Homo sapiens: one gene and its partner. The protein of the gene in region 1 interacts with the protein of each later gene in a biochemical or structural test. Each region holds a gene or a part of one and is shown on either strand. Other genes may lie near its edges.

Region 1 (3,813 bases):
CACTCCAGCCTGGGTGACAGAGCAAGACTCCATCTCAAAAAAAAAAAAAAGAAAGAAAGAAAGCATTTCTGTCACTTGCAACCCACTGAATTCTAAGTCATTTGCTCAACTGTCCATTCATTCATTCAGCACACATTTATAAAGCATTGTTTCAATGTCAGTAGTCGGTAATTTTCTTTAAAATATTTCTGCATGGACAGCATGACACCGTGGGTGCTGCCTGTGACGCTGCTGTCAATGACACATAATGGGGGTAATGTGAATTGTACACTGCCCCCAGCTGCTTGCAGTTGGGCTATTCAGGAATCCTCAGCCCAGGGGCACTCAGCTGGCATTTTATCAGAACAGCCACACTCCAGAGGCCCTTCTGCAAATGCTGCAGCTGTCCTTATCTCACAGGGACACCAGAGGCTTTGTTAAATCAGCATAAAGAATGTCAGAAATGGCTTTCCATGAGTGGAATAAGTGACTTCTTGTTTTTTTTTTTTTTTTTTTTTTGAGACAGAGTTTTGCTCTTGTTGCCCAAGCTGGAGTGCAATGGTGCGAACTCAGCTCACTGCAGCCTCCGCCTCCCAGGTTCAAGCGATTCTCCTGCCTCAGCCTCCTGAGTAGCTGGGATTACAGGCGCATGCCACCACACCAGGCTAATTTTTTTTTTTTTGTATTTCTAGTAGAAACGGGGTTTCACCATGTTAGCCAGGCTGGTCTTGAACTCCTGACCTCAGGTGATCTGCCCGCCTTGGCCTCCCAAAGTGCTAGGATTACAGGTGTGAGCCACTGCTCCTGGCCTACTATCATATATTAAAAACAGCCAAAGACAGGAAATCAGGCAGTTGGGCTGCAGTGAGCCATGATCACCCACTGAACTCCCCGCGTGGGCGACAGAGTGAGACTCTGTCTCAAAAACAAACAAACAAAACAAAAAAACCCCAAAGAATTGAGCAGGACAGAATGGGTGCCCACTGCATGGAGACACTGCTCCTGGTGCTGAGAGGAGGCCTGCCCTCAGGATGCCCTCCAGCCTCACCTTTCATCCAGCTTAGCGGGTATTCGTGCCGGCAGCTGGCGCTGACGCAGTGTGATGTGTAGAAGGTGCCGTGCGCCTCCACCAAGTCCTCCTGTTCCAGCCCGGCTATTCGCTCCAGGGTATCTATGTTCTAGAGGGAGAGATGGAGGGAAGAGGGGTGAGGAGTGAGCCACCCCTTGTAGGCCAGAAGGCACAGTAGGGAGTTGAGGGCCACGAGGAGCAGTGAGGTGGTGGGGACAGGTGGAGAAGGGAGGGAGGAGAAGCAAGTGGCAGGGTTTATCTGAAGACTCTTCTGTTCATCCCAATGGTGCCACTTAAAGGGTGACAGTCAAGGCTGCTTAAAGGCAGGGGCCAGGCTGGGCATGGCGGCTCACGCCTATAATCCCAGCACTTTGGGAGGCTGAGGTGGGAGGATCACTTGAGGCCAGGAGTTCAAGACCTGCCTGAGCAACATATCAAGACGCTTGTCTCTACAAAAAATTAAAAAAAAAAAAAAAAAAAAAGGGGCCCAAACCTAAATATCTATGAGGCCAGGCCCACAGCCACTCCACAGCCTGTGTGGCTTTTATTCTGCAAATTCAGGCCATTTGCTTTCATTTTTCAGAAAAAAAATGTTGTTTTATTAGAGCCAGATGCTTTATTTCCACCTGTCATTAATTGCTGAAATTAACATACATTTACAATGTCTCTGTTATTAATGGAGCCCCCTCAGATGTGGCATCCTTGTGCAGTGCGCACCCTGCACAGCTGCATGTGGCAGCTCTAGGCAAGCATTAACATAAATGAATCAGGAGGGCTTACTAGGTGTGGTTTGTTTGTTTGTTTGTTTGTTTGTTTTTTGAGATGGAGTCTTGCTCTGTCACCCAGGCTGGAGTGCAGTGGCACAATCTCGGCTCACTGCAACCTCTGACTCCCAGGTTCAAGAGATTTTCCTGCCTCAGTCTCCCAAGTAGCTGGGATTACAGGCACGCACCACCATGACTGGCTAATTTTTGTATTTTTAGTAGAGATGGGGTTTCACCATGTTGGCTAGGCTGGTCTCGAACTCTGGACCTCGTGATTTGCTTGCCTCGGCCTCCCAAAGTGCTGGGATTATAGACATGAGCCACTGTGCCTAGCCATGTTTTTTTATGTATTTGAGACAAGGTCTCACTCTGTCGCCCAGGCTATAGTGCAGTGGTACAATCATAGCTCACTGCAGCCTCCAACTCCTGGGCTCAAGCAATCCTCCCACCTCAGCCTCCACATCTGGCTGATTTTTAAAATTTTCTGTAGAGATGGGGTCTCACTATGTTGCCCAGGCTGGTCAGCGAGCCTTCTGCCTCAGCCTCCCAATGTGCTGGGATTACAGTGTGAGTCATCATGCCTGGCCCTTCCTTGGCTTTAATCACTATCTTCCCCTTTAGTAGCCAGGGTCCTTTCTTACTATGGCCTGTTTCATAGATGGCATATTCACCTGTGTTCTTTTCTTTTTTTGGAGGCAGGGTCTTGCTCTGTCACTCAGGCTGGAGTGTAGTGGTCTGATCACAGCTCACTGTAGCCTTCACCTCCTGGGCTCAAGCCATCCTCCCACCTCAGCCCACTGAGTAGCTGGGACTACAGGCAAATGCCACCATGCCCGGCTAATTTTTTATCTTTTTAATTATTTTTGTAGAGATGGGGGGTGGGGTGGTCTCCCTATTTGCCCGGGCTGGTCTTGAACTCCTGGGCTCAAGTGATCCTCCCACTTCAGCCTCCCAAAGCGTTGGGATTACAGGCGTGAGACACCATGCCCAGCCACTGTTTTCTTTTCTTTTCTTTTCTTTTTTTTTTTTTTCAGATGGAGTTTCACTCTTGTTGCCCAGGCTGGAGTACAATGGCGCTATCTCGGCTCACTGCAACCACTGCCTCCTGAGTTCAAGCAATTCTCCCTGCCTCCGCCTCTCAAGTAGCTGAGATTACAGGCACCCGCCACCATGCGTGGCTATTTTTTTTTTTTTTTTTGAGACGGAGTCTTGCTCTGTTGCCAGGCTGGAGTGCAGTGGCGCAATCTTGGCTCACTGCAAGCTCCGCCTCCCAGGTTCAAGTGATTCTCCTGCCTCAGCCTTCCAGGTAGCTGGGAACACAGGCACGCGCCACCATGCCTAGCTAATTTTTGTATTTTTAGTAGAGACGGGGTTTCACCATGTTGGTCAGGATGGTCTCGATCTCCTGACCTCGTGATCTGCCCACCTCAGCCTCCCAAAGTGCTGGGATTACAGGTGTGAGCCACTGCGCCCGGCCACTGTTTTCTTTTAAGACAGTGAGACTTTCCATATTAAACAGGTGGGAATGTTCTTTTCTGCACAGACATTTGTGCGCGCTCATTTTTCTTAAAACAACCACCCCCTTTGGAGCAGCTGTTGTTTGCCTGTGAGGAATGCCGCTAAAACAGGTGCTGACAGAGGACACTGGCAGAGGTTACGCAGAGATGGCTCGCATGTGTGGCCCAGGGCCAAACTGACAGCGTTTCCCAGGGACTCCAGAAACAACGGGAAGGGTTTGTTTCCCTTCAAGGGCAGAAAGAATGCTCTAACTGCCTTCTGGGCTCCCTACCAGCAACCACCTTATCTCCAAAGCCTACAGACAAGAGTCACTGTCACTGTTCCCACACGCCCTGTAACTTTCCTCCCTTGCCCACTATTCTAAATCTTGGTTTTGCCTTTGGTACTTGACTCAGTCTACCCACTGACTCCCTCACATGTGAGTGAGCAATTTGCAAATAACTGAACAGTAAGCAAATAACTGAACAGCGTGGAAAAGAACCA
Region 2 (3,913 bases), on another chromosome or scaffold:
GGCAGGAGACACTATGCCAGACACCTCTTCATGCAGAATAAAAAGGCATAGTGTAGAAATGAGGACCCTTCAGTGGGCTGACCAAGGAGATTAATTGGCATTCTGAACCAAATGTGTTGCAAAGACAGACAAGAAAGCTGAGCCCTCCCAAACAGTCCAAAAATGCCCAGCAGTCAAGTTAGCCAACAAACACTCCTCCTCTCCTGCCAAGAGTTTTCAGCGCCTTTAAAATGTTCTCCAAGTTTCAGCACCAGACTCCCAGCATCCACCCAGCTGATTCCTGACTTCATGGAACAACCCCTCATTATGGATGAGGCCTCCCATTCCTCTCAATTCTGCCCTCATCCCTCCCTATCCCCACCCCCTCACTGGGGTATCAGGTTTCTAATTTCCTTTAGAGAGGTGAAAGCACTTGATTGCCACCCTCTTCCCAACCTGGTGCTCTGGTGGAGGTGAGAGTCAGAGGCTGTTCTGCAGGACACCCCACTGCCTTTCCTGGTTGTTCCCCAGAGCCACTGATACAATTTCACACAAGAAAGGAGGTGACAGATGTGAGGAGCCTGCCACCCGTCCAATCCTACTCAAGTCCTAAGCCCTTGCCCACCAATTCTGTGCATGATGATTGGACCTTTCTCTGGCTTTTCCAGAAGGGGAACACGCAAAGGTTAGGGAGCTGGATGGTCTAATTCGGGGCTATGCTCTTGTGTCATCTGCTCAACTGTCTCCTGCGTATTAGCCATGCTCCCTAACCAGCTTACAAACTTCTTGAAGGCAGGGACCAAATTCTTCTGAGTACAGGGCAGAGCTGGATACTTGGATATAGTGTCATGCCATGGTGACAAGATCCACGCCAGCAGATACAAAGGCAGACAAAGTGAGCGAGGCAGTTTCCAGGACCACGTGGTTGTGGCACAACTAAAGCAACAACAGCAGCCTCTGCGGTCTAAGGGGTCCTCGGAGGAGGAGACGGCTGAAGGTGGTGGACAGGGCTGAGGCGGGCAGAAGGCGGTTGTGCGATTTGGAGGGTGGGGGAGAATATACTGGATCAGGTGAGGTAGAGACTGGGCAGCTGGGTCGACTACAGAGGTCGAAAGTGCAGGCACTGGAGTGAAGAGTTCACAAAATAAATATTCCGGACAAGGCCACCAGGCCCAGCAGGCCTTTTCAAACACGGTGGATAAAGATTTGAAGTAGATTAATTATATATCACAACAAAAGGAGATAAAAATTTGCTAAGACTATAAATCATCTGGGAGCGTTTGGGATCGGATTCTAGTCGAGTCTGGTCACTCCCAACCAGCGATAAACCAAAGGTGGGGAGGAGGCTAAATCTGGACCCCAGCGCTCCCCGCCCGCCTCCCTTTCCTCCGAAGGCTCCCAGGAGGCAGAGGGGCGGCGAAAGCACGGAGCAGTCTTGCATCAGACGAGGGGCGGGTACGTGTTTGCTGCCTTACGAGGGCTGCCTTCCCCTCCAGCTGCCCCAGCAGCCACCAGACTGGTTGGGTCTCCGCCAGCTTCCCCCCGCCCCCCGACCCCCCCAACCCCGCCACCGCCAAGGCAGGCTAGAATCGGCGGGGCGGCCCAGAACTTGGTTGGGAAGAATCGCCAGTCCCTGGGTTCCCCGCAAAGAAGCCACTTTGGGGCCCCTCTCCCGATCGCCCCGCGCGGAGGCGGTTGGGGGTTGGGGGAGAGGCGGCGCGAGGCTGCCAGAACAATTGCGCGCTAAGGCGCTGGGGCGCCGCGCTGGCATCCCGCGCTGGCATCCGCGAGCAGCCTGCAGGACCAGTTGGAGCAGCCCGCACTTTGCAATGCTAGCGGAGGCATGCCAACGTGAAAGACGCGGTTGCAAACTAAAAGAAAAGTTTGCATCTCGCCGCCGTTTGTTCTTCCCTCTTTCTGCCTCCTCCCGCCCCCGTTCTTCTCTACCCCCCAATCTCAGGAGGCCCCGGAACTAATTGATACGGGGTGCATGCGAGGGGGGCGCGCTGGCCTGGGCGCAGCCAGCCTTTTTCCATGGAGGTTGCCCTAGAGACCTCAATTTTCTCTCTCTCGCCTTACCTGCAGCTCCGCTATCAGCTCCTCTTTGCTAAGGTTCTGCTTTTCCACCACCTGCAGCCCTCCATCTTGCAAGATCTTCCGGCAGCAAGGGTCCAGGCTGTCACTGATGAGCACTTTCCGCAGATTTGCAAAAGCCATTGCTGGAGTTGGCCTCGGAATCGGCCGCTGTGAGTAGAAGTACCTAAGCCAAGAAGCTGCGGTTCGGCCTGGCGCGCTAGAGTAACTGGGCAGTATTCTCCAGCTCCCGCTCCCCAGTCATCTCCTCCTCCTCCTCCTCTTACAGTCTCCTTTTGATTGGACGGAAATACTCAAACTCTCCGCGACTCCGCCTCCTCCTCGCGGCTCTGAGGTTGCCAAATCCCTGCCCGCTTTATTATCCTCCCGCGATGAATTTCTCCATCTCAGCCAAAGCTCTTACCTACACCTGGTGAGCATATAAAAAGCACAATTTACGCTGACTAGCTGATGCATATCTGAAATGAACGGAGAAATACACCTCATCCTGAGAGAAAAACTTCATTTTCACTTTTCCTCCTAAGGATTCATTTATTAATTCCTTACGAAATTTTTTTTGAGTGGGTAAATGTGCAAGGCACTGTGCTAGACGTTGAAGGGAATTCGACTATCAAAAAGAAAATGTCCAACAATGATAGACTGGATTAAGAAAATATGGCACATATACACCATGGAATACTATGCAGCCATAAAAAATGATGAGTTCATGTCCTTTGTAGGGACATGGATGAAATTGGAAATCATCATTCTCAGTAAACTATCGCAAGAACAAAAAACCAAACACCGCATATTCTCACTCATAGGTGGGAATTGAACAATGAGAACACATGGACACAGGAAGGGGAACATCACACTCTGGGGACTGTTGTGGGGTGGGGGGAGGGGGGGAGGGATAGCATTAGGAGATATACCTAATGCTAAATGACGAGTTAATGGGTGCAGCACACCAGCATGGCACATGTATACATATGTAACTAACCTGCGCATTGTGCACATGTACCCTAAAACTTAAAGTATAAAAAAAAAAAAGATACATCCTCTTTCCTCTGGTGGCCTAACATCCTAGAGTACCAAACACACAGACTTGGAAAGTTACGTAGTGAAAAGCAATAGGAAGCTTTCTGAGACACCAAGGAGCTGTGATTAATTTCAAATTAGTGATGCAATGAGAATTATGAGTTTATAAAAGAGCGGGGACCTGGTGCATTTAAACTAGGCATACTTTGTTAAAGTTATTTATTTCCTTTCCCTCCACTTCCTCTCTAATTATGAAAAAGAAGAAAAGGAAAACGGGATGTCAGTGTGGTTTAATTGACCAAGGAGGCACTTCTCAGCTCTTAACTCTTTTATATTTAAACCCCATAACCGACGTGCTCTCTCATGCCCCATTTTACAGAAATGTCAGAAAATTCAATTTGGGATTAAAGTCACCTAGAATCAGAAGCAGAATCAGAGATGCTCATAGTTGAATTAGAATTCAGCTTTATGGACATATCCAGTCCAACTAACCATTGTGTGTTATGTCATCCTGAGCTATTCATAACTCAAGTGCTAGATCCTTATCCTACAGAACTATGCAATATCAATTCTATAAAGTAATGAAAATTCTATACAGATAATTCCTGGGCACAAATCAGATTTTTAGACACAATGTCCTCAGTGGGTAAAAAAAAAAATTGTCTATCATGTTTGCTTGTTCGGATGAATTGTTATTCCTACATTCCAAGACTCATGAGTATTCAAATTCTCTGTCTCTCTTGAAGTGCCCAGCAGTACCCTGGAGTCTAGGGACAGACAGGGGACCTATCCCAGGAGGCTTAATGGAGGGTCTTGGGAAGCA

What was found.
Region 2: of the proteins of SIRT2 (region 1) and PHGDH, one has a biochemical effect on the other in vitro, tested with the Homo sapiens proteins (one large-scale study listed by BioGRID).

Annotation. Positions count from the first base shown.
Region 1 is NC_000019.10:38,882,600-38,886,412, forward strand, and holds part of SIRT2 (NAD-dependent protein deacetylase sirtuin-2), read right to left. Parts: intron 1,158-3,813; coding exon 1,028-1,157; intron 1-1,027. UniProt on the Homo sapiens protein: NAD-dependent protein deacetylase, which deacetylates internal lysines on histone and alpha-tubulin as well as many other proteins such as key transcription factors.
Region 2 is NC_000001.11:119,710,306-119,714,218, reverse strand, and holds the start of PHGDH (D-3-phosphoglycerate dehydrogenase), read right to left. Parts: upstream 2,286-3,913; 5' UTR 2,197-2,285; coding exon 2,059-2,196; intron 1,489-2,058; exon of another isoform or gene 1,421-1,488; coding exon of another isoform or gene 1,361-1,420; intron 1,308-1,360; exon of another isoform or gene 759-1,307; intron 1-758. UniProt on the Homo sapiens protein: Catalyzes the reversible oxidation of 3-phospho-D-glycerate to 3-phosphonooxypyruvate, the first step of the phosphorylated L-serine biosynthesis pathway.